Linked DNA regions of Homo sapiens. The protein of the gene in region 5 purifies or fractionates together with the protein of the main gene of each other region. This does not show direct contact. Each region holds a gene or a part of one and is shown on either strand. Other genes may lie near its edges. The genes, in order: MYO1B, ARMC9, NUDT19, POTEJ, CAT, TYSND1 and AGPS.

Region 1 (3,500 bases), on a different chromosome or scaffold from region 5:
CTCTAAATGGACAGAAGTAACCAAAGCAAACATTCAGAATCAGGGCAATTTTTTTTTTCCCAAACAAACTAATTTTTGTAAAAGGTTAACTGTACACTTATCACTAAGATATCAATTTCCCTAAAGACTTGTCGGGGGACTCTTTCAGGACAGGTTCATCAAAGGCACCAAGGAAAAACTGCTGCTTCAAGGAATCTATAAGCTTCATTTTGAGCTACAAAGTTCTGGCAATTTGCAAATACAAATTTAAATGCTTATGTTGTGGGTGGAGGATAAGGGAAGAAAAATCCACGTAGGTGGTCAGCGTTTCACAGCTCTCAGGATATAAAAGGCCAACTCCCATAAGAGCTGCCACTTTGCAGGGTGGTGGGAGGCTAAATTATTCCACCTCTCTCACTGCTGTGGGGTGAGTGTGCCACTATCCCTGAAAACTGATAAGACTACCCAAAAAGGACTTGGCTTGAAGTTAACTTTTTTTGGTTCCTATTCAACTGTGTTTTAAATTATAAAAATGCTAACAGGCTTTTAAATTGTTTCCTCAAAGATGTATTTTCCAGCCTGTAGTTTCTGAAGAGTCATCCACAGGAAATGTTCATTAAGAAGGTTATTCCCTAATTTAAAAATGTATAAAAAAAAAGCTGAATAAAATTAGTTGCTGAAGCAAGCATACAGACAAATTCTCCTGTTTGAATATGCTTTATATAACAGGCACTTTGGACAACTTTGGATTTAGACACTGTGTTTGACTTAAGGGAGTATGTATCACCTCAAGTAGCCACATCAGCTAACCAATGAAGTTGTACAATTTAAAATATTTAAACCCAGTGAGTCTGGCAATGTATATTCCTTTAATCCTTTAAAAGGAAGATATTTTAAATGTGTATAAAGTCACAGAGAATATAAACATAATTTACGTAATAAATGTGAATATACTCAGCATATAATACATTCTTTCTTTGGCCATTCATTGGAAGAAGCTTAAAGTTGTTACAGATTTGGCTTGAAATTGTACAATCTACTTTTTTATAAACACCAGATGAAAATGGGATTAGATTGCTGGGAGGAAGTGATGAATGCAGGAGATGTAAGACTATTGGGATAAACAGTCTTTACCAAGGACTTCACTTGCTGAACTTGGGATTGGTGTTCCTTCTTTTTCTGAGTCCACGGTGTCTAAAATAAAGGAACTGAACGTGCTGTACAGGCCACAGAAGTCATATCCGTTGAGTTAGCAGACCAAAGGGCACCACAGACCAGTGCTCAAGCAACACTCAAAAAGTACTGTCCTGGCTCGCTCTTTCATTTACCTTACAAATAAGTTTCTGACCTTGCTTGCTATGGCAGGAAGACTGGAATGGTGATTAAAGTATATTGCCAACAGAAATTTGGCTAGTCTTTGAAAACTACGGAAAAGGAACAGGAATTTACAATGCAAACGTATCTTAACAGCCTATATAATTTTTATGTTAAATGACTTCTAATTATTTAGTAAAGTGTTTGAGCTAATGCTAATGGAGTGAAACCAACAATCGTAACCTCATTTCATTAAACTGCACTATAGAAGCCATAGCTCAAATAAATGTGTTTACATCAAGCTGATTATAAAATGATTCACAGAACTAAAAATCACTCATCTAAGACTGAAATCAAACACCAGGCAAAACGGCGTACAAATATACTTGAGAAACTTTTATAATCCTGAATTTTATGGGTAAAGCAAAGCCATAATACCTAGATGGGTATAAAGCCTTCTTGTCTTTGAAGAGTTCACTGGCTTCTAGTTTCTCTTCATAAATAAGTTTCTGCTGGTCTGTGAATTGGTCCCTGTATTTTTTACACTGTGAGATATGAGAAGAAAGAAACAAAACATCATTTATATAAATAAATTATTACTCATTCTTAAATATGCTAAGACAATTTATCAGCAACAAGAATAAGGGAGAAAGTACAAAACATTCACTAAAAAAGGCCAAAAACATTTTTCCCTTGTGGGTTTTAAAAAGTTTGTCTTGGAAAACGTCAGAGTATTATTTGTATTGCAGAACCTGGAATGCTTCTTCAAAACACACCAGGGCCTAGTGGGCACGGGCCTTGCAAGTACTATTTCCTCCCACTATGTCAATCCTTGGAAATCCTCTAGTCCTGAGGCTGTCACTCTTCTAGAGAGACTCACAGTAAAAATATTGTGCATCACAATCCACTAAGCACATTTCCACACACATACAGAGAAAACTGACACAAAAGCGTCACAAAACAATACTCAATCCTTTCTATATATTGTACACTCTGCTATTTTCTATTCTATTGCATTTTATTGAAAAACGCTGGTAGTAATCCACTAAATTGATTTCATGACCACAAATATGCTATGACAGTTTGAAAACCACTGCTCCAAATCCCCCCACTACCATTTTACAATAGGGATGAGGGACCTGAGATATCCCCTTTCACTCCATCCCTGAAGCTGCAATGAGAGGAGACAGTGGCCAGAGGAGCAGGGCCAGGTTTTTTAGATGAGCATTCCTAGAAATTCAGTTACAGGTGTGGTCAAGTGCTACTGAAATAATTGCATGAAGAAGTGTGAGCATTGCTGCTGACCCTTTCCATGGAAAGGCTCCCTTCAGGAATAAACAGCCCTCATCTCCCACCTCCAATCCAATGGAGGGATGGGTGAGATTGCAAAGCCAGGGGAGGGCAGAGGTGGTGCAGATCCCCAGCAATGGGAGCTCCCTGTCATTATTTCTGAAAACAGTTTCTGGGTTAGACTCAAGAAAGGAGACAAGCCATTAAGAGGTTCATGAACCTCGCCAAATTTGCTGTTAGAGAACAGAACTCAGAATCTAGTTCCTTATGTTGTATGGTACCACTTATCAAGCTAATCAGCAATAATGTCACTCTATACATAGATGATTCTAACAAAAAAACAAGCCCACCGTGCTGGGCAGGAAAGTTTCCTGGAGGATGTGTGTACTGAGCATTCATTTACTAAATACATGCCCTTCCATCTCATGATTTTATTACATCTGATAACTGCATATATTTAACATTCCACATATCAACTGACTAGGTTATCGAAGTAAGGTCAACATCTATACAAGTGCCCCACGTGTTCCATGCTGGGCAACATCTAAATTACATGCCATGTCCTCTTATACAAAATAAGAGAGCTAAAATAAAAGGCAGTATAAAACAGATTTCCAGCTTCCCTGTAATTTAGATAGAGAATGTGTTACTATCTTTAGGGACAGGAAAAAGCCTTTTTTCCCACCCATCAAAGTGTGTGTGTTCACATGTATTATCTGATTATCTGTTCTGTACATCTGATAAAGTAAACTCTTCAATTTGCAGGATTTAACTATGTTGCCTGAAGGTGTCCAAATTTTATGATTTCTCTGTCCTACAGTATTCCTTTAGACAAAGAGAGAAACAAATGAACAAAAAACTGAACTACTTGAGAGCAGCTGGAACCTGGAATGGAAAGAAAATGCAGCCCTGTGCTC
Region 2 (3,500 bases), on a different chromosome or scaffold from region 5:
GCCAAGGCGGGAGGATTGCATTACCCAGGAGTTTGGCAGCTTAGTAAGACCCTGTCTCCCTGTCTCTACTTAAAAAAAAAAAAAAAAAAATTACCTGGGTATGGTGGCATGCACCTATAGTTCTAGCCACTGGGGAGGCTGAGGAGGGAGGATCCCTTGAACCCAGGAGTTTTAGCTTGCAGTGAGCTATGATTGCACCATTGCACTCCATCCTGGGCAACGGAGTGAGATCCCATCTCAAAAAAAAAATTCGATGAGTTCTGACACATTCTGAATTTTATAGATGAAGAAAGGCTCTGCACTTCAGTGAGTTGTCTCAGATCAGGTGCCAGTGAATGGCATGGTTAACATTAGAGCCCAGACCTTTTCATTCCTCTGGGGTTACGGGCAACTGCTTTGGGCTGAGCCTGGGGTGTGGGCCATGGGGAATGACTGCTTTGGGTACACCTTGAGGGAGGGCTAGTAGAAAGAGTAGGAAGAGTTTCTTTTGACTTTAGCCATTGTATTTCCTAGTGCCGCTGAACAAATGACCATAAACTGAGTGGTGTCAAGCAACAAAGATTTAATATCTTCTAGTTCTGGAGGTCAGAAGTCTGAAATGGCTTTCACTGAGCTGAAGTCAAGGTGTCTGCAGTGCTGGATCATTTCTGGATGCAGTGGGAGGATCTATTCCTTGCCTTATGCAGTTTTTAGAGGCTCCTTACCCTCCTTGTCTTATGCCACTTTATCCCCTTTAAAGCCTGCAGTGGCTGTTGAGTCTTTCTCACATCTCATCATGCTGGCACTGACCCTCTTGCCTCCGTCTGCCCCCCTCCCTCTGCTGTGACTGCCTTGGGCCCACCTGGGTAATCCAGGATCATCCCCCAATTTAAAGGTCAGCTGATGAGCAACCTTAATTCCATCTGCACCTTAATTCCCCCTTGCCGTGTAACCTCACGTATTCACAGGTTCTGGGGATTGGCGCATGGATGTCTTTGGGGGCCATTATTCTGCTCACCACAACCACCTTTTTGTAGTTTCATAGGTGGTTGAAATGAAAGCTGTTGTCTTGTATTTTTGCCTTCTAGAGATTTTTGCTGTGAGAATTAATTACCAGTAACAGTTCAATATGGGGGACATTCTGGCTCATGAATCTGAATTACTTGGACTAGTGAAAGAGGTAGGTATATTATACAAAGCAGAGGTCACAGAGAAACAGATCTTGAAAACTTGTGTTTTAAAATGCAACAAACTATTTAGTGCCTTGTAATGTTTCTTCTATTGTTATGTTGGAGCTATTTTTCTATTATATAATATTCCATGTATTTACATTTTGGTTTTATAACTAAACAAATCTTAAAGCCACTTAAAAAGTCCCTTGAAAGAAAATTATAAAAGCAATACACGTCCACGGTAAAAGATTCAAGCACTACAGAAGTATAAAAAGGAAATTTCCCTCCCAGACTTTTTTCTATGTATAGTAAAAATATATTCACATGCCTGTAGTTTGTTTTACAGAATGGGATGATACATTGTTCTGTAGCTTGCTTTTTATCTGCCAACAATAATATAGCATGAACATCTGCCTATGATCGGCCCTAGACATTTGAATGCCATAGAGTATTTCATTGAGTGGCTGCATCATAATTTTTTTAACTCATTGTCTGGTAATGGCCTAGGTTTCCTACGCTAAAAGCTTTGACAAGTAGGGCCCAGGCCTTAAACTTTCTGGTGCTAAAGAAATGGTTCGCGCTTGCTGCTGCTTAACTGTGTGAGTAACCACCTGCAGGTTGCGAGAGCCACGGGCCTGGAGCAGGGATGAGGCACCCACCGTGCAACTGCAGATTTGGAATTTGGTGGTGTGATGGCGAATATATTCTTTTTTAAAAAATTTACATTTAAAAATCTTTTTAGAGACAAGGTCTTGTTCTGCCGCCTAGGCTGGAGTGCAGTGGCATCATCATGGTTCACTGTAGCCTTGAACTCCTGGGCTCAAGCAATCTGCCTGCCTCAGCCTCCTGGGTAGCTGAGACTACAGACGTGCACCACCATGCTCAGCTAGGTTTTATTCTAATTTTTGTAGAGATAGGATCTCACTCTGTTGTCCAAGCTGGTCTTGAACTCTTGGCTTCAAGCAATCCTCCTGCCTCAGCCTCCCAAAGTTGTGGGATTGCAGGCATGAGCCACTGCACCCTACCTATATAACACATTTTCTTTTAAAAATTTATTTATTTGAGATGGGGTCTCGCTTTGTTGCCCAGGCTGGTCTCAAAGTCCTAGGCTCAAGCGATCCTCCTACCTCAGCCTCCCAAAGTGTTGGGATTACAGGCATGAGCCATGCCACCTGGCCTATACCATTTTTTCTTTTTTTTTTCTTTTTTTTTGAGATGGAGTCTCACTCTGTCGCCCAGGCAGGAGTACAGTGGTGCTTTCTCTGCTCACTGCAACCTCCACCTCCTGGGCTCAAGCGATTCTCCTGCCTCAGCCTCCCGAGTAGCTGGGACTACAGGCACGCGCCACTGCGCCTGGCTAATTTTTGTATTTTCAGTAGAGACGGGGTTTCACCTTGCTGGCCAGGCTGGTCTCGAATTCCTGACCTCGTGATCCACCCGCCTTGGCCTCCCAAAGTGCTGGGATTACAGGCTTGAGTCACGGCTCCTGGCCGGTAGTTCTATTTTTATTTTTTTGAGGAACCTCCATACAGTTTTCTATAATGGCCGTACCAATTTACAGTCTCACCAAGAGTGCACAAGTGTTTCCTTTTCTCCACATCCTTGCCAAGACTTTTTATCTTTCGTCTTTTTTGTAATAGCCATTCTGACAGGTGTGAGGTAATTAGGTCTCTGTGGTTTTGATTTGCATTTCTCTGATTGTTAGTGATGTTAAGCACCTTTTCATGTATCTGTTGGTCTTTTTAATGTCTTCTTTGGATAAATATCTATTCAGATCCTTTGGCTGTTTTTTAATTGGATTATTTGTTTGTTTTGCTGTTGAATTGAATTATTTATTTTTTATAGTATTTAGATTTTGCTGAATTTGAAGACACCTTGAAAACATTTTCAAAAGAATGCAAAATAAAAGGAAAACCATTGTGTAAAACAGTAGGCGGATCTTTCAGAGACTCCAAATCATTGACAATTCAGGTAACATTTTGCTTATTTTTCATCCCTGTAGATAATTCAGGATGCTCCCAACTTGTGGAAAATGCTGCTGTTGGATAGTGCTAGAATAGTTTTTGAGCACTTGCTCAGAGTTACTTTAGATGGCACAAGTGTTTATAGATGAACTAATAATGTCATTTTAAATCTCTGTACCCTCCCCAGGAAATGTGTGGCCATATAAGATCTTTCACAAACATTTCTTGGGAAGAAGGAAAAGAAGAAACCATGCAGTGTTTAGGAACTGAGACAATTGTAGCCTTCCTCCTGAGGAGTTTCAGGTTATTAATTCTAGGCACTGGGGATCCAGCAGTGAACAAACAAAATCCAGCCCCTTGCCAGCACAGCATTTGCATTCTAGCT
Region 3 (2,736 bases), on a different chromosome or scaffold from region 5:
ATCAAAATAAATACTGATTTAACAACTATCTCAGTTCCAAACATATGAAATAGATAAAAATACTGATTTGTATTTCATTAGTATATTGGAGTGATTTATAAAATAATACTCGATGGAATTAAAATTTTATACTTTCTGCCATGGTGAAAAATAATTTTGTATTTAAAAATAAAATCAGATTTTTTCCTTTTTCAGGTGATGAGCTATATTTAGAAGATTCAGACTTTTTGGAAAATCTTATGTCTACTGAAAAAAAGACTGAGGAAATCATGAAGGAAGGCAAGCAGTTTCACCGGATAGTGACATACCATCGCCACCTTTATGATATCCACGTGACTGTTCAGCCAAAGTATAAACACGTTTATCCTAAGAACTCTGTAGTAAGAAAAAGCCATTTGTAGGGTGCTTAAGCTTGTTTGTAAAATGGCCTACTTGAAGTCCTCATGAATAATGAGGGTTGACTTTCATTTGCTTGAAACTTAAGGAAGTTTGTGCCTATAAAAGTTACTGCAATTCAGTATTTCTTTATTTTTTTCGAGACAGAGTCTCAATCTGTCGCCCAGGCTGGAGTGCAGTGGCATGATATAGGCTCACTGGAAGCTCTGCCTCAGGGGTTCATGCCATTCTCCTGCCTCAGCCTCCCGAGTAGCTGGGACTACAGGCGCCCGCCACCATGCCCAGCTAATTTTTTTTTGTATTTTTAGTAGAGACGGGTTTTCACCGTGTTAGCCAGGATGGTCTCAATCTCTTGACCTCGTGATACGCCCGCCTTGGCCTCCCAAAGTGCTGGGATTACAGGTGTGGGCCACCACACCCAGCCTTTTTTTTTTTTTTTTTTTTTTTTTTTGAGACAGAGTGTCTCACTCTTGCCCAGAACCCAGGCTGGAGTGCAGTGGCCCAATCTCGGCTCACTGCAACCTCCACCTCCCAGGTTCCAGCGATTCTCATGCCTCAGCCTCCTGAGTAGCTGGGACTATAGGCATGCACCACCATGCCCCACTAAATTTTGTATTTTTAGTAGAAACAGAGTTTCACCATGTTGGCCAGGCTGGTCTCGATCTCCTGACCTCATGATCTGCCCGCCTTGGCCTCCCAAAGTGTGGGATTACAGGCGTGAGCCACTGTGCCCAGCATGGTGTTTCTTATATCAGGTGTTTTAGGGAGCTCGCTTGCTTATTCCATTCTTTAATCCTTACAGTGTGCCACACGTATAAAGTTTATAACGTATTAATGATCTCATTACCCAAAACCAGAACATAATTTCACAAGGGTTCCTACTTCTGTATTGTTTTATTATCTCAAAAATTTAAATAACATGTTCTGCTGTTTATTGTTCTTGTTATCCACTGTATTAGCACCTTCCCTGATGTGCTTTGGAGGTTGATCAATGAATTTCTGAGACTTTCTGCTGGAATTACTTTAAGGGTGTCTTATTAGATGATGAAAAGTTGGCTGAGACACCCTTCAAGTGACCATGTCATTGTTTTCTTGCTATGTCTTTAGCTTAATGATTAAGATACAATTCTTTTTAAAATCAAATGGTATTAGTTATTATGTTTCCCAAATTAGAAATCGATTTTAGTTAACATTTTATTTTATTTTATTCTATTTTATTTATTTTTGAGACAGAGTCTCGCTCTGTTGCCCAGGCTGGAGTACAATGGCGCAATCTCAGCTCACTCCAATCTCCGCCTCCCAGGTTCAAGCGATTTTTCTGCCTCAGCCTCCCGAGTAGCTGGGATTACAGGCACCCACTACCATGCCCAGCTAATCTTTGTATTTTTAGTAGAGACGGGGTTTCACCATGTTGGCCAGTCCGGTCTCGAACTTCTGACCTGAGGTGATCTGCCCACCTTGGCCTCACAAAGTGCTGAGATTACAGGCTTGAGCCACCACGCCTGGCCTAGTTAGCATTTTAAAGAAACACAAAGCCATAACAAAAACCATCATTGTTTGTATTCCACACTGTTAATGAATGTAAAGAGGTTAGAAATGTAGTGTTTGATTAATGATGTTTATTTTTACTGTATTTAATATGAGTAATTTTTCATCATCTTTCAAGAGGAATAATGTTTATTGATTAAAGGTGAGAAATGATAGTTAAGACACCAATTCCATGTCCAGATCTTTGACTGTATCATGCATTGTACAATTGATTTCATATTTTATGAAATGCCTTAATTTTCCTACTATAACATAAAGACAATGATGAATAAAGTTTATGTGTATGATTAAATCCAGATTAGAGAACTATATCTAGCACAGCAGTCCTCAGCCTGGGCACTTTTGCCCTAGGGAACATTTGGCTATGTCTGGAAACATTTTTGGTTGTTGAAACTGTGGGCAGAGTGGGTGGGTGGGGGAGTATGCTACTACCATCTAGTAGTAGGGAGAGGCCAGGGATGCAACTGAACAGCCTGCAATGCGCAGTCTCACCCATAGCAAAGAATTACCTGACCAAGGATGAGACACCCAATCTAAAGTAAAATCTTTTTTTTTTTAAATAAATGGTTCCAATATGTAAATTTTGAGAACCACAGATACTATTATTCTGTCTGCCTTTTGAATCTACAAAAATGGGAAATTACGTCCAATTGGAAAAAAAAAAAAAGTTGGCTGGGCTGGGCGCAGTGGCTTATGCCTATAATCCCAGCATTTTGGGAGGCTGAGGTGGGCGGATCACCTGAGGTCAGGAGTTCAAGACCAGGCTGGTTAATGTGGTGAAACCCCATCTAC
Region 4 (4,195 bases), on a different chromosome or scaffold from region 5:
GGCTGGTCTCGAACTCCCGACCTCAGGTGATCCACCTGCCTCGGTCTCCCAAAGTTCTGGGATTACAGGCATGAGCCACTGCACCCAGCCAGCCTGCAGATTTATTTTAATGAGAAAATCAAAGCAAAAGCAGGGGCATAAGTGGAGCATATGGATGGGACAGAGAACGTTGGAGGCTTTAGCAGAGAGAGGAAAGGGCAGGAAGGAGTCATCCACAGGAGGGGAGAGTACTGTCCTGTGACTGCTCCTCCAAGCCCCCTCTTGCCGGCGTGGACACAGCGGTCTGCACCTTGACCCTATTGCATGCCAGTGGAGCAGAGCCCCCCAGGCCAGAAGCCCTATAGCTGTTGGCCCTGGCTTGGACACCGGGCAGGGGGCACCGGGGCAGGAGCTGGCCGCGATCCTGTGGCCCCAAATGCCCCCTCGCTGATGGCCTCGTGTTCTGGGTGCAGAGCAAAGAGGACCAGGTGTCAAAGGCACCTCAGGCAGGCGCTGGGCTCAGTGGGCATCTTGTGCTCCGGGATTTTGAGGCCATTTGCAGCCAGCTCCTCCAGCCCCAGCTCCGAGCTGCAGACGCTGCCACGCACAACAGCACCGCCAGGAGTGTCCCGGGGGCTTTCTTCAGAGGAGGCTGTCAGCATCCTCAAGTTCCAGCCGCTTAGCCCCAGTCCTGCTTCAAGAGGCTTTTTTTTCACCAGAGGCTTCTCAATGGCCTGAAAGCTCAGCTGACTCCCATGAAGTTTGCCAGGAACATAAGGCTGTCGGTGACATTCGTGGCGCCAAGATTTAAACACGCGGTTGCACGCATTGGCCACTGTCTGTGCCACATGCACTGACGCCACCTGAGATGCACACGCTGCACGCCGCACGCGCACGCCGCACGCGCACGCCGCACGCGCACGCGGCAGCGGCTTGGCTGGCTTGTAATGGCTTGCACGCGCACGCCACACGCGCATAGCGGTTTGGCTGGCCTGTAACGGCTTGCACGCGCACGCCGCACGCGCGTAATGGCTTGGCTGGCCTGTAACGGCTTGCACGCGCATGCTGCACGCGGGTAACTGCTTGGCTGGCCTGTAGCGGCTTGGCTTGGCTTTGCGTTCTTTGCTTGGCTTGGTGTTGGTCGCTTGGCCTGGTGTTCCTCCTTGGATTGACGTTTCCTCCTTGGATTGGCGTTTCCTCTCTCGCGTTCCCTTGCTAGGCTTGACCTTTTCTCTGCTGGGTTTGGCATTCCCTTGGGTGGGCTGGGTGTTTTCTTGGGGGGGGGGGGGTTGGCCCTTCCTCGGGTGGGCGTGGGCTTTCCCCGGGTGGGTGTGGGTTTTCCCTGGGTGGGGTGGGTTGGGCTTACCTGCTGGGGTTGGCAGGTTTTGGCTGGGATTGACTTTTCTCTTCAAACAGATTGGAAACCCGGAGTTACCTGCTAGTTGGTGAAACTGGTTGGTAGACGTGATCTGCTCGCTACTACCGGCCTCCCCAGGCTGTTAAAAGCAGATGGTAGCTGAGGTTGATTCAATGCCGGCTGCCTCTTCTGTGAAGAAGCCATTTGTTCTCAGGAGCAAGATGGGCAAGTGGTGCCGCCACTGCTTCCCCTGCTGCAGGGGGAGCGGCAAGAGCAACGTGGGCACTTCTGGAGACCAGGACGACTCCACTATGAAGACACTCAGGAGCAAGATGGGCAAGTGGTGCTGCCACTGCTTCCCCTGCTGCAGGGGGAGCGGCAAGAGCAACGTGGGTGCTTGGGGAGACTACGACGACAGCGCCTTCGTGGAGCCGAGATACCACGTCCGTCGAGAAGATCTGGACAAGCTCCACAGAGCTGCCTGGTGGGGTAAAGTCGCCAGAAAGGATCTGATCGTCATGCTCAGGGACACTGACGTGAACAAGCAGGACAAGCAAAAGAGGTAACCAGGCCTGGGCTGGGAGGAGGTGGGAGGTCGGGGGATGATGGGGACATACCCTCCTGGCGGGGGAGGAGGGGGACCTGGCTTTCTCACCTCCGCAGGCCTCACACCACCCTGGTTGTGGAAACCTCAGAGAGGTCAGGGCACAGGCCCCTTTATGAACAGCAACACACACAAAAAAAACTTTAGCTGATTTCCAATCAAATTATAATTTCCCTCGTAGAACACTAATAGACTGTTTTAAAGTGATTTAACTTGCAAAATTAATTAAGTCAATGCAGCAGATTATTTTTAATCTACAGATTTTAAAACAATGTTCTATACATTATAGAAAAGTGTATATTGAGAACTAAGAATGAAGCCCCATAACACATCAACTTCAGGGCTAAATATTCTTCAAATAAAATCCAGTATGGATTTTATATCAATGTACCCTATGTAAATACGTTCTTTACTGAGGAACCTTAGAAGGAAACTGAAATGGGAAGATGGTTCCTGTGCTTGAATAGGAAGATTGAATTTTCTTAAGATGTGAGCTTTTTGGCTGGGCGCGGTGGCTCATGCCTGTAATCCCAGCACTTTGGGAGGCGGGCGGATCACGAGGTCAGGAGATCGAGACCATCCTGGCTAACACGGTGAAACCCTGTCTCTACTAAAAATTATAAAAAAAATTAGCCGGGCACGGTGGCAGGTGCCTGTAGTCCCAGCTACTCAGGAGGCTGAGGCAGGAGAATGGCGTGAACTCGGGAGGCGGAGCTTGCAGTGAGCCAAGATAGTGCCACCGCACTCCAGCCTGGGAGACAGAGCGAGATTCCGTCTCAAAAAAAAAAAAAAAAAAAAAAGATGTGAGCTTTTTCTATTTATCACTTTTACATAAGCCAAATAAAAATAGCAAAGTTTTAGCGTTTTTAAATTACACATGCTGTCTTTTATTATTGTGATAAATTAATTTTTTGTAACAGAATGGAAAAAGGCTTGCTTTTCCAGATATCAAAATGTGCATGTGTTATTTATTTCCACAAATTGTTTACTAACAGCTGAAAAGACATCAATGAATAGAACAGAATAGGAAATTTAGAAATACCCAAATATATGTAAGAATTTAGCACTTGATAATGGTGATGTTTTGTATTATTTAAAAAAGATGGATTGTTCATAATTCATTTTTGGAGAAAACTAGCTAGATTTTTATGTCACAAAAATAAGAGTATAGATTAAAAATTTTAAACATACAAAAGGAGAAACATACCAGAAAAAATATAAATGCCTATTTATATACGCAGATATATATACATATATATACATATATATACACATATATACATATATATACATATGTATATATACATATATATACATATGTATATATACATATATATACATATGTATATATACATATATATGTGTGTGTATATATATACATATATATGTGTGTGTGTGTGTATATATATATATATATATATATATACTTTTTTTTTTGGTGGAGTCTCACTCTGTAGCCCAAGCTGGAGTGCAGTGGTGTGATCTCGGCTCACTGCAACCTCTGCCTCCTAGGTTCAAGCAATTCTCTGCTTCAGCCTACTGAGTAGCTGGGATTACAGGCGCCTGCCACCATGCCTGGCTAATTGTTTTGTATTTTTACTAGAGATGGGGTTTCACCATCTTGGCCAGGCAGGTCTTGAACTCCTGTCCTCGTGATCCACCCACTTTGGCCTCCCCAAGTGCTGGGGTTACAGGCGTGAGCCACCGTGCCTGGTGTATATATGCAGACATAATAAAATAAGCTCATTTTAAAATTGGGCAAAGTACTTTTTTTGCATATCTACCAGTGACCTATGCACATAGGAAAATACAGTGTTCCTGGTAGAAGAAGGAATTTAAGTTAGAAGAGGAATGAAATACTGCTTTCTATTTAAGTTAGAAGAGGAATGAAAGGCCGGGTGCAGTGGCTTACGCCTGTTATCCCAGCACTTTAGGAGGCTGAGGCGGTGGATCATGAAGTCAGGAGTTTGAGACCAGCCTGGCCAGTGTGGTGAAATCCCATCTCTACTAAAAATACAAAAAATTAGCTGGGCATGGTGGCACGCACCTGTAATCCCAGCTACTCAGGAGGCTGAAGCAAGAGAATTGCTTGAACCAGGGAGGTGGAGGTTGCAGTGAGCCGAGATCGCGCCACTACATTCCAGCCTGAGTGATAGAGTGAGACTCCATCTCAAAAAAAAAAGAAAAAAAAAAAAAAAAGGAATGAAATACTGTTTTCTATCCACAAAGTTTGTGAGGATGAAGAACAGTGGTAC
Region 5 (3,500 bases):
TGAGCCTTTTTCCAAAGTGGTTGTACCATTTTATACTTCATCAGCAGTGTATGGGAGTTCCAGTTGCTCCACATCCTACCAACTTTTGGTGTTGTCAGTCTTTTACATTTAGTTGTTGGGTGTGCAGTGGTATCTCATTATGGTTTTAATTTGCTTTGCTCTGATGACTAATGATGCAAAGCATCTTTTTACATGCTTATTGACCATTGGTATATATTCCTTTGAAGTATATGTTCAAATTTTCTGTCTTTTTAAAAATTGAATTGCTTTTAAATTATTAATTCATAGCCCATATTTTAAGTTCAATCATGTGGAATCATGTGTAGGCTAAGTGTTATAATAATAAATCTCAACATGTATCATGGTATAAACATATTAGAAATTTATGGCCGGGTGCAGTGACTCACACCTATAATCCAGCACTTTGGGAGGCTGAGGTGGGCGGATCACCTGAGGTCAGGAGTTCAAAACTAGCCTGACCAATATGGAGAAACCCTGTCTCTACTAAAAATACAAAATTAGCTGGGCGTGGTGGCACATGCCTGTAATCCCAGCTGCTTGGGAGGCTGAGGCAGGATAATCACTTGAACCCTGGAGGCGGAGGTTGCAGTAAGCCGAGATCCTGCCATTGCACTCCAGCCTGGGCAACAAGAGTGAAACTCCATCTCAAAAAGAAAAAAAAAGAAATGTATTCCTTTCCTACATGAATGGCCCAAAGTGGTTTGAGGTTGAAGGAGGTGGGTGGGTGCTCTGCTTCCCACAGTTATTGAGGGCACCAGGCTGAAGGAAGCTCCCCCTTGGTCAAACATGGCTTTTATGGGCGTCACTGTCCAGCACAGAAGGCTCAAGAGCGTGGAGAAGGGTATATGAGTGTGGGAAGGTTTAGGGTCCAGGGTCACTGCCACTTACATTCTGTTGGCTAGAACTCTGTTACAGGCCACACCTGGGGTAGTCTACCCCCTGTCCAGGAAGCTGACTCTACTATATTATCCAAAGCGTACATTTCATATTTGGTGAAAATCTGTCCAGCCATTTTCTTGTGATGCGGCAATGGACATGCAACATAATTTCTTTTTAAAGAATATGTCATTTTTACTTTCTGACATTAAGATATTCTGTTAGAAAATTATGACAGTAACAGATGGTATTAAAAAAAAATCTCCCCTTGCTTGGTAAATGCTTTTATCTAAGTGGGCAGCTTTGTGCTAATATGATGTCTTCCACTTCCCAATTAGTTGTGATGCTTTACTGATCTAGGAGAGCTTTATGGTTTGGGACTACTATAGGCGAACACTCTGTTGCCTCCTCTCTCAAGAATCAGAGTGTCCTATTTTGGAAACACAGTCAACCATGTGAAAGCAATTTATTGGGCGTATCTTCTGTGGTCAGATTTGGTTTGCTGACAGGTGAATTGGGAGTTTTGTAAACTTTAATAAGTGAGCATTGAGTCAGATGTGTTCATGAGTATGACCTCGATCCACTTAAAAATTCTTATTTCTTTTTCTCTCTTGGCAGGAGGGAGGTGGTTGTGCAGGTATTCCCAGCCACTTTGAAGGGAACTTAAATGGGAACTTTATTGCTCACTGCTTAGAATGCCATGGGCTCTTCTTTTGAGATACTTACCTTTAACCCATTTCCTTTTTTTTTTTTTAAGTGCAGCTTGCTGCCAGTGCTCTTTTCTTGGGGGTAAATGGGAAATGTTAATAAGTAGCCTCTGATCCCTTTAAAATGGGAGAATTTGAACATTTCAAACCTTACCTTTTTATACAGTTCTCTTATTACCTGGGAGAGAGGTTAAGTCTTAGACTATCCATTTCTGTCAGTGAGTTGCCTATGCATTATAGCCTGTGAGGGTCTATATTTTTTTAGGGTAATCCTGGTAATAACTGCATTGATGTTACACTGCTAACATTTGGGATGGAGAAGGGGTGACTGAGTGACTTAACCCTTGGTCCACATGTGCTTTCATTTCTCCTGAAATATACCTAGGTATGGAATCGCTAAGTCATTATGTGCAGTGGGAGAGACTATGGGAGATGGGACAGAAATTTTTAAGGTTTCATTTCTTTTTTTTAGCTTTTGCATGGTGGGTAGGTCTATGCAAACCTACCCCCAAAGTCTGAGGAAGCTGAGAGGCCAAAGAAAGAGGCTGACAAATCAAGTTTCTCAGAAAGAAATGTTTAGTAGGGACTTAGGACCAGAAACCATGTCTGTGTCTTGCGTGTTGGCGAGACAAGATGGTGGATCCCATACCATTACCCCTCAGACCCAGGGCTTAATACCATAGGGAAGGGCGATTCAGAAGGGAGGTATGGCATGACTGAAGTATGATAATGTCAAGGTTGTTTGACCTCAGGGCAGGATTTATAGTAAATAGGGGCTCTTTCACAAGGAATAATAGATAAACTGGAAATCTTAAAACTGGAGTTAATCAGAAGTCAGCATGGTGGATCAGTATCTAAGACGGAATTGCTTTAGCTTCCACAGCAGTCAATATCTAGACCACCCTTATTATTTTCCCACAGACCAAGAAATTTGAAGGTCAGGACAGTCTTTGGTTTCCTGTACGTGGGTGTATACGTTGTAGGCACTTGAATCTTTGTTGAATAAATGGAGAATGTTAGGCAGTTATTTGCTAGAAAACGCTAGGCACATTCTTTATCACAGAATGAAAAGACGTCATTATGACTCCTCTGGGACTGATGGGCAATTTGCATTAACCAATCTTTTAATTAAAAGTGGAAGAATATGTTTAGGTTCTTGAAACTTCTGTGAGTGAAGGGAACTACTAAGTGGAAAGTGTAATATGTTGATAAAATATTTCACCAGATGAAGCCAACCTTACTCCTCCCAGGAAAACTTCTTCATTTATGTATTAGCTCTGGCCAAAAGAAGCCTATAAAGGCAGCAAAGTCAAAATAGAATTTTACTTTAAGTCCCTACTTCTAATAATTGTGCTAGTTTTTAGCCAAGCTAATTTCTGTGGCAGTTTTCATAACAAGTGTGTCTAAAGGTGTTTGATCAGAATTTATAAATTAAAATATTTCTCTCATTTTTTGGAGGGGCGATGCAGGGAGAGGGATAGACTGTTGCTGCTTCCTCCTGCTTGTTAGAAAGGCTCTTGGCCATATCATATTGGTCCGTGGTTTAGTTTATTTGCATGCTGAATCCACACACATTTGTTTTATGTTTGTTAGTATATTGAGCAGTGTATTAGGGATCAGGTATATAGATGTAAAAGGAGTACACAGTCTAGAGAGGAAAAATAGTGACAGGCTGGGCGCGGTGGCTCACGCCTATAATCCCAGCACTTTGGGAGGCCAAGATGGGCGGATTTCTTGAGGTCAGGAGTTTGAGATCATCAGCCTGGCCAACATGATGGAACCCTGTCTTTACTAAAAATACAAAAATTAGCTGGGTGTGGTGGTGGTCGCCTGTAATCCCAACTACTTGGGAGGCTGAGACGGGAGAATTGCTTGAACCCGGGAGGAGGTGGAGGT
Region 6 (3,110 bases), on a different chromosome or scaffold from region 5:
GCATGGATGTGTGTGTAGTTTTTTAAAGATAATTTCAGACATACAGAAGTCTTGCCTAAATATTGCAGAATTCTATATACCCTTTGACCAGCTTTCCTTTATGTTCGTATCTAATGTCACCAAAAAATATTTATCAAAACCAAAACATATACCTTGGTAGAATACTGTTATTAAGTGAACTACAGAACTCATTGACATGAGTTGCACTAGTTTTTCCACTAATGTCCTTTTTCAGTTCCAATATCCAGTCTAGGACTCCATATTCCATTTAGTTGTCGCATCTCCCAAATCTCCTCCAATCTGGGTCAGTTCCTCAGTCTTTCCTTATCTTTCGTGGCCTTGACATTTTTAAAAGTGCAGGTTATTTTATTTATTTACAGTTTTTTTTTTTGTTCTTGTTTTTGTTTTTTTAGAGGCAAGGTCTCGCTCTGTCACCCATGCTAGAGTGCAGTGGTGGGATTATAGCTCACTGCAACCTCAACCTCCTGGGCTCAAGTGATTCTCCCGCCTCAGCCTCCCTAAAATATTTTGTAGAGATGGGGCCTCACTATGGTTGTCCAGCTTGGTCTTGAACTCCCAGACTCAAGCAATCCTCCCGCCCTGGCCTCCAAAAGTGCTAGAATTACAAGTGCGAGCCACCATACCTGGCTTTTTTTTTTTTTTTTTTAAATAAACACTGTTTATTTTTTTGAGATGGGTCTCGCTCTGTCACACAGGCTAAAGTGTAATGGTGACCATAGTTCACTGCAGCCTTGAACTCCTGGGCTCAAGTGATCTTCCCACTTCAGATTCCTGCAGAGCCAGGACTACAGGCACATACCACCATGTCTGGCTCAGGTCAGTGATTTTAGAGAATGACCCTCAATTGAGGCCTACCTAATGTTTTCTCATGACTATTGGGTTGGTGCAAAAATGAATGCGGTTTTTGTCATTACTTTTAATTGTTTTGCCATTACTTTTAATTGTTTAAGGTTACACATTATTGGGAAGAATACCATAAAAGCCATGTGTCCTTCCCAGTGTCTCAGCTATCTGATGTCTGTATGGAGTACTTCTGACGTTCACCTTGATCACTTGGCTGAGGTGGTATCTGCCAGGCCTCTCCAAGGTAGACTTAGTATTTTCCTTTCTTTTTTTTTAATTAAAAAAAATTTTTTTAAATAAAAATAGAGGCAGAGTCTCACTATGTTGCCCAGGCTGGTCTCGAACTCCCATTTCAAGTGATCCTCTTGCCTCAGCCTCCGGAAGTGTTGGGATTACTGGCACGAGCTACCACACCAGGCCTAGACTTATGGCTCTAAATATTACTTACGGCTCCAATATTTCCTCTTTGTAAGTACTAAATATTTAGAGGAAATATACTAAAGTTATGCAAATACAATTTTACTTGTATACTAGGATGGAACAGATAAGTAAACATATTGTAGACAACAAGAGCAAGGTTTTTCACTACAGGAGAAAGAAGAAACAAGGAGAGTTAGACTGGACTGGAGTTGGAGGTTTCTAGATGAACTCATGTTTTTTTCTTTTTGACAGCTAAACAGACTGTTTTTTAAAAACCTGAATGTTACCAAAATTTAAAAATTGATCGATTTAACGGCCACATGTATTTTTTTAAAAAAGCTTTACATGTCTTGTGAAAATATTAGAATACCAGCCAACGTTAGGCCCATCCTCCTTCATGGCCACAGTCTGCAGCAGCTGAGTCGAGTGCGCTTCAGTTTAGACCCCTCCCCTCCCCTCCCTGTTGTCTTCTCATTCATTTGCTTTATCTTTCCAGCCTCTGTTGGCTTTTGAGTCTGTGACGCTTTGACTAATCCAACTCCTCAATTTCACAGATCAAACCAGATTAGATTAGTAGCAGAGAAGGGACCAGAGCCCAGATCTCTTTCCTCCCAGTCCAGCATCCGTCCCTCTCCACCATCAGGAGAACAGCCTGCAAACCTTCGCTAGCTCACTCATAATGCCCACCATTTTCCCAGACAGAGGGTGCACTGGGGCTGGCCACAAGCACTCATGGGGTGGGACTGAGGTTCTGGCAAGTGGGAGGGCGGGAGGGGGCCAAAGAGCTGGTTACCAAGGAGGTTTCCTGAGTGGTTGGAGAAGAGGGGTCCCCCACTGGAGCCGCTGTGCACAGCACACGTGGTCTGCAGCATTACGGGCGTGCCATTCACCTGCACCACAGCCGAAAGGATGCCTGAGGTCACCGAGGGCCCGCAAGACTGGCCAAAGACGCCAAAGCCCACCACACTCACAGCCTCGCCTGCCAGGGAAGGAAGGAGGGTGAAGCTGGGGACACCTGTGTTACAGCAGGACTCACACTCCCTAACTCCCATCCCTACCCTCTCCAAACATTCCAAACCTCTCCACCCTTCAAGTTTCTGCTCAGATACTCCTGCCTCCAGAGAGCCTTCCCCATGTCCCCTGGCTGGAAGAGGCTGAGAACTCCACTGAGCTCCTAGCACTGTATCTGCATGACCACTTCTGAGCAACAGGCTGTTCCCTAGTCCTTGTTCCCTGGACAGGCGGGGCAGTGACTTTTAGGAGTTCCTAACACCTACCTACATGCTCAATAAATGTTTGTGGAATTCACACCCATCTCCTCCTGGAACTCCTAAGAAGTCTCTTCGTGAAAAGAAATGGTGATGATGGCTATAATGCAGCCATGACCTTCCTTTTCCAAGTGCAGGGTATGGGGGTAAGTGCTTTACAGGCAACGTCACACCCAGCCCTCACAACACCCAGAAATAGGATGCATTAGCCCCATTTCAAAGACGTGGAAAATGAGGCAGAGGATAGTTAACTAGCCTGTCCAAGGACATGGGACTAATAGGTGGCATAGGAAAGATGCCCATCCAGAGCCCCTGGACCCTTCATCACTGTATCACACTGCCTCCATGGAGTGCAACATCAGTACTTATGTGGCAGCATCACAAAGCCTTTTACCCAAATCGTGCCCCTGGAGCCTTGAAAGTGCCACATGCCTCTCTGACCAGCCTGAAGTGTTAAGGAACCCCAAAGGCCCAGCATCCTCACACTACATTGCTGCAGGCACTCGGGGAAAGGGCGTGCAGCATTATCCTTCCCAGGGCACTCCATGTGCCCCACCA
Region 7 (3,961 bases), on a different chromosome or scaffold from region 5:
TCTCTGTTGCATATTCTTTTAAAAAATTTCTTGTTTTCTTTTAACAACCCTTCTCAAATACAAAAACCATTAGCATGAGGGCTGTGTAAAAACAGGCCACAGACTAGAGCTGGCCCTCCAACAGCAATTTGCTTAGCCCTTAATTGAGAGTTTTTAACCAGTCTGGGCCTCTTTGGAAGTTCACTCTAAAGGCATAATCTCAATTTTAGAAGCTGGCAACACCCAAGAGAGCAATTGTTAGTCTCTAGTCCCATGGATGTGGTGTTCTTCAGATTCCTCTGCCAATATTTTTCTTGTTAGGAAAGCATGATGTGAAAGTGGTGACAGGATGGAGAATGACAATGGCCAGTGTATGTGAGTTTTTGTCTAAGCTAATTCTTATGCAAGACACCGGCTGAAACAGGTGAGGAGCACTTTTCACGTGCTATCTTCCAGAAATGAATTCAATCTGTAAATAACTGAGATGTCTTCACAGCTCTTGGGTAATTTTTGTCTGTAGCAATAAGAAACTTTATCTCTATTAAAGTTAGGAAGGGGTTAGGATCCAGTAATGAATGAAATGAGAACTTAAGTTGCAACTCAGTTTCTGTACTTACTTGTGATCTAGCATTAAACACAGTGCCAGGCACGAAATAGGTGGTGAGAAATAAGAAAATGATAGAGCTATTTGCTCTAATGGTTAGAGGCAATGATGGTCAGCTTTGAGTTACTTTGGTGACCCCGCAGGGAGGAAGAGCACAGGTGGAACATTAGAATCTCTTTCAGGAAAAGGATGCCGCTGGATCCATCAGGTCCAGTAGCACTGCCCATTTCTCCTGCTCCAAGGCATCTGCCCTCGAAAGCCCCCAGGCCACACCCGAGGACACCACCCAGGGTTCTAGGACACCTCGAGGGCGGACGTGGTTTGGCTCTCGGTCCAGCTGGACCGGGCTGGGCCAACCGGGAGTCAGCTCGAACTCACCTGCTTGGCAGGTGCGCGCTTCCCGAGGCGTGACAAGGGAGCGCCGGCGCGGTGGGTGGGGGGCAGAGAATGTGAAGCTCCAGACGCATGGCACCCGCCGCCAAGTCGCCGCGGTGGCTGCCGGGATGCGCCGCAGCGAATGGTCGCGCCGGGCGCCGCTCTGAGTGACCTTTCACCCGCGCCCAGCGGTTCCGGGCGGCAGCACAAGGCGGTAGCCATGGCGGAGGCGGCGGCTGCAGCGGGTGGGACTGGCTTGGGCGCGGGCGCGAGCTACGGGTCTGCAGCGGACCGGGACCGGGACCCGGACCCGGACCGCGCCGGGCGGAGGCTGCGGGTTCTCTCTGGCCATCTGCTGGGCCGGCCCCGGGAGGCTCTGAGTACCAATGAGTGCAAAGCGCGGAGAGCCGCGTCGGCGGCCACGGCAGCGCCCACGGCCACTCCCGCCGCGCAGGAGTCGGGCACCATCCCAAAGAAGCGGTGAGTAGCGGTATGTGGAAGGAGTTAGCGTCGAGGGACCAGGCCGGGCCTGTGCTGCAGGAGGGCACAGGCGAGGTGGGAAGGGAAGTGACACGGGTGGGCGGAAGGCATCCCGGTCCCTGAAAGTAGGGACCCACCTCTCTTTCGAGAGAGTGGACTAGACCCTGGATTCTGTCAGGAAGGGGGCGGGATGGGATGGTGGATTTTGGTCACTATGTGAGGGTAACAGGCTTGAAGAACTCTCGTTGGAGAAGGGTTTAAAGGATTCCTTTTTCCTGAGCTTTTAGTGCCAGGAATTCATTTTTTATCTTGAATTAATACTTTTGGTGCTGAGGTCTTGGAATGGGTAGCAGAGGTTCTATTTTTCTCCGAGGAGATATAAATTTGTACTAGATGATAGATCATAGGAATCTCTCTCATTCGCGAAAGCCTGCTGTGGGGGAAACTGGTGGTGCCCTGGAAAAAGGTGCTGACTGGTTTCTGTGGGGTAAGTTCCACTTGCTTAGGATCAAGATGTATTGACTTTGAGGGAGGAAACCGATGAATGGTAAGAAGCCATAAACTGCAAACACTAGCTAGTGGTTTAAGGTGTGGTGGTATAGCTACTGAGCTCTGTGTAACCAGAAGCTAAAAGACAAGAGTCTAACCGATGAGGGATGTTTGTAAGAGATCTTGACTTTCGATGTTTTTGGAGAAATCTTTTTTTTTTTTTTTGTATTTTTAGTAGAGACAGGGTTTCACCGTGTTAGCCAGGATGGTCTCGATCTCCTCAATCTCTGATGAAGGCTATTAGGAGAAGCTACTTTCTGACGTGTGGCTTTGTCACCGTGGATAAATGGATAAACCGAGAGTGAAAAAAATAAGTAGCTAATGTTTAAAGTGTACTTTTAAGTGTGCCAAAGTGTGCTAAATCCTTTGTTTCTTCCCAAGCTATGAGGTATGTGCGGTTTTCTCCCATTTTACAGATGAATAAATTAAGTCTGCTGGAGTCTTAGCAGATATGCTGTGTGACAGGTTAGAATTTGAAAGCACATCAAATTGACTTCATGGCCAAGTTCCTAAGCTATACTTGCTTCTGATGAATTAATTCAACATACATGAGTCTTTACAAAATACACACTGTACCAGCAATACAGAAATTTAAAAATACGGTATTTACTCTTAAGGAAGGAATAGCTTAGTAGGTAAAATTATAATACAGCGTTATAAGAAACTTAACTGGGAACTATACCACCTGGTCATTTAACCCAGTTTTGGGTTTGTGTTTGTTAGTGCAAAGATGTTCCAAAGTAAAGATTGTCTGAGTAAATTTTGGATGTTTGCATTACTAATAGTTTGCCAAAGGGGGAAATTGTTCTTGGCATACAAACAGTATGTTCACAGGTAAAGAAGTGAGAGACAAATTAGGGAACTGCTGAGACTCAAGTGTAGTAGGAGAGGGTGAGAATGACAGGGGACGAAGACTGGAGAGGTGAATCTTGTTTACAGGATTTTACGTGGGGCAATACATGATTAGATTTACCTTTGATAAAGGTCACACTGGGAGCAAATTGAAGACAGTTGAGCATTTTGGCAGTATAATGGCTGGGAACATAGACCTGGATTTCAATTTCCACTACACCGTTACAGCTCTATGATCTTGGGCAAATCACTTAACCTCTGAGAGTTTCAGTCACCGTCATTTGTAAAAACGGGAACAGTAATCCTGTTTTGCAGTGTTGCTGTGAGAATTGAAAAAAATAGAGTTAAATGATCAAGTGTTTAGTGCAATGCCTGTTACATAACCTTTCAAAGAATGGTAGCTGCAATTTTCACAGTGTCTAAAGGCAGAGAGACTAGGAGACTATTATTCCAGGGAGAAATGCTGGGATTCTGAACTAAGGCATATTATTGGGAGTAGGCAACTTAATTGAGAAAATGCTAGGAGGTAAATTTTCCATAACTTGGTTACTGAGTGGTGGGGAGGGGAGGAATAAAGGATTTCATCTCGTCTCCTGGCTTCAATTGAGGTTATATTATTAATAGCTGTCATTAGGTTTAAAATTTTCTAAATGGTTTCATGTACATTTATGTGTTCTCATTTGTATGCATATATGTGATTGTACATTTTATGTAGATTCACACTCTTAGAACCAAGTAAGGAGGGCAGGTTTTCCTTATGGTTAGATTTAATGGCTTGGTTTACAGCATTCAGAGAAAAAATAGTAACGTTTGTAAGGCACACCAAGATGATGGTTGAAGGTGACTGGTCAGGGATGCCCTGTGTGGCTGCTCCAAGGACTGAAGGCATCGATAGTTCAGGCACGACTGTAACCCATTTGTTGCATAGGTTACAGCTGGTGGGAAGCCCTGGTCTTTGGTTCGGGGTTAGACGACTAGTGGTAAAATCTAGTCCTGTACTGGTACTTTGAGATTTTCATCAAAATATGAGGGAACACAGAAACTTGTATTAGATGACACATCAAAAGCTTCCACAGAGGGTGATATACTTGATAGATAATCATGAGGAACCCAAGTCTCCCT

Evidence for each region.
Region 1: the proteins of CAT (region 5) and MYO1B purify together in Homo sapiens (affinity purification with mass spectrometry; one large-scale study listed by BioGRID and IntAct). This does not show direct contact.
Region 2: the proteins of CAT (region 5) and ARMC9 purify together in Homo sapiens (co-immunoprecipitation; one large-scale study listed by IntAct). This does not show direct contact.
Region 3: the proteins of CAT (region 5) and NUDT19 purify together in Homo sapiens (affinity purification with mass spectrometry; one large-scale study listed by BioGRID and IntAct). This does not show direct contact.
Region 4: the proteins of CAT (region 5) and POTEJ purify together in Homo sapiens (affinity purification with mass spectrometry; one large-scale study listed by BioGRID and IntAct). This does not show direct contact.
Region 6: the proteins of CAT (region 5) and TYSND1 purify together in Homo sapiens (affinity purification with mass spectrometry; one large-scale study listed by BioGRID and IntAct). This does not show direct contact.
Region 7: the proteins of CAT (region 5) and AGPS purify together in Homo sapiens (affinity purification with mass spectrometry; one large-scale study listed by BioGRID and IntAct). This does not show direct contact.

What each region holds. Positions count from the first base shown.
Region 1 is NC_000002.12:191,409,404-191,412,903, reverse strand, and holds part of MYO1B (unconventional myosin-Ib), read right to left. Parts: intron 1,839-3,500; coding exon 1,732-1,838; intron 1-1,731. UniProt on the Homo sapiens protein: Motor protein that may participate in process critical to neuronal development and function such as cell migration, neurite outgrowth and vesicular transport.
Region 2 is NC_000002.12:231,205,131-231,208,630, forward strand, and holds part of ARMC9 (lisH domain-containing protein ARMC9), read left to right. Parts: intron 1-1,067; 5' UTR 1,068-1,108; coding exon 1,109-1,159; intron 1,160-2,996; coding exon 2,997-3,122; intron 3,123-3,500. UniProt on the Homo sapiens protein: Involved in ciliogenesis. It is required for appropriate acetylation and polyglutamylation of ciliary microtubules, and regulation of cilium length. Acts as a positive regulator of hedgehog (Hh)signaling.
Region 3 is NC_000019.10:32,711,557-32,714,292, forward strand, and holds the end of NUDT19 (acyl-coenzyme A diphosphatase NUDT19 precursor), read left to right. Parts: intron 1-195; coding exon 196-401; 3' UTR 402-2,236; downstream 2,237-2,736. UniProt on the Homo sapiens protein: Fatty acyl-coenzyme A (CoA) diphosphatase that hydrolyzes fatty acyl-CoA to yield acyl-4'-phosphopantetheine and adenosine 3',5'-bisphosphate.
Region 4 is NC_000002.12:130,610,045-130,614,239, forward strand, and holds the start of POTEJ (POTE ankyrin domain family member J), read left to right. Parts: upstream 1-1,395; 5' UTR 1,396-1,488; coding exon 1,489-1,898; intron 1,899-4,195.
Region 5 is NC_000011.10:34,441,934-34,445,433, forward strand, and holds part of CAT (catalase), read left to right. Parts: intron 1-3,500. UniProt on the Homo sapiens protein: Catalyzes the degradation of hydrogen peroxide (H(2)O(2)) generated by peroxisomal oxidases to water and oxygen, thereby protecting cells from the toxic effects of hydrogen peroxide.
Region 6 is NC_000010.11:70,140,591-70,143,700, forward strand, and holds part of TYSND1 (peroxisomal leader peptide-processing protease), read right to left. Parts: intron 2,264-3,110; coding exon 2,078-2,263; intron 1-2,077. UniProt on the Homo sapiens protein: Peroxisomal protease that mediates both the removal of the leader peptide from proteins containing a PTS2 target sequence and processes several PTS1-containing proteins.
Region 7 is NC_000002.12:177,391,612-177,395,572, forward strand, and holds the start of AGPS (alkyldihydroxyacetonephosphate synthase, peroxisomal precursor), read left to right. Parts: upstream 1-1,161; 5' UTR 1,162-1,178; coding exon 1,179-1,438; intron 1,439-1,443; exon of another isoform or gene 1,444-1,513; intron 1,514-3,961. UniProt on the Homo sapiens protein: Catalyzes the exchange of the acyl chain in acyl-dihydroxyacetonephosphate (acyl-DHAP) for a long chain fatty alcohol, yielding the first ether linked intermediate, i.e. alkyl-dihydroxyacetonephosphate (alkyl-DHAP), in the pathway of ether lipid biosynthesis.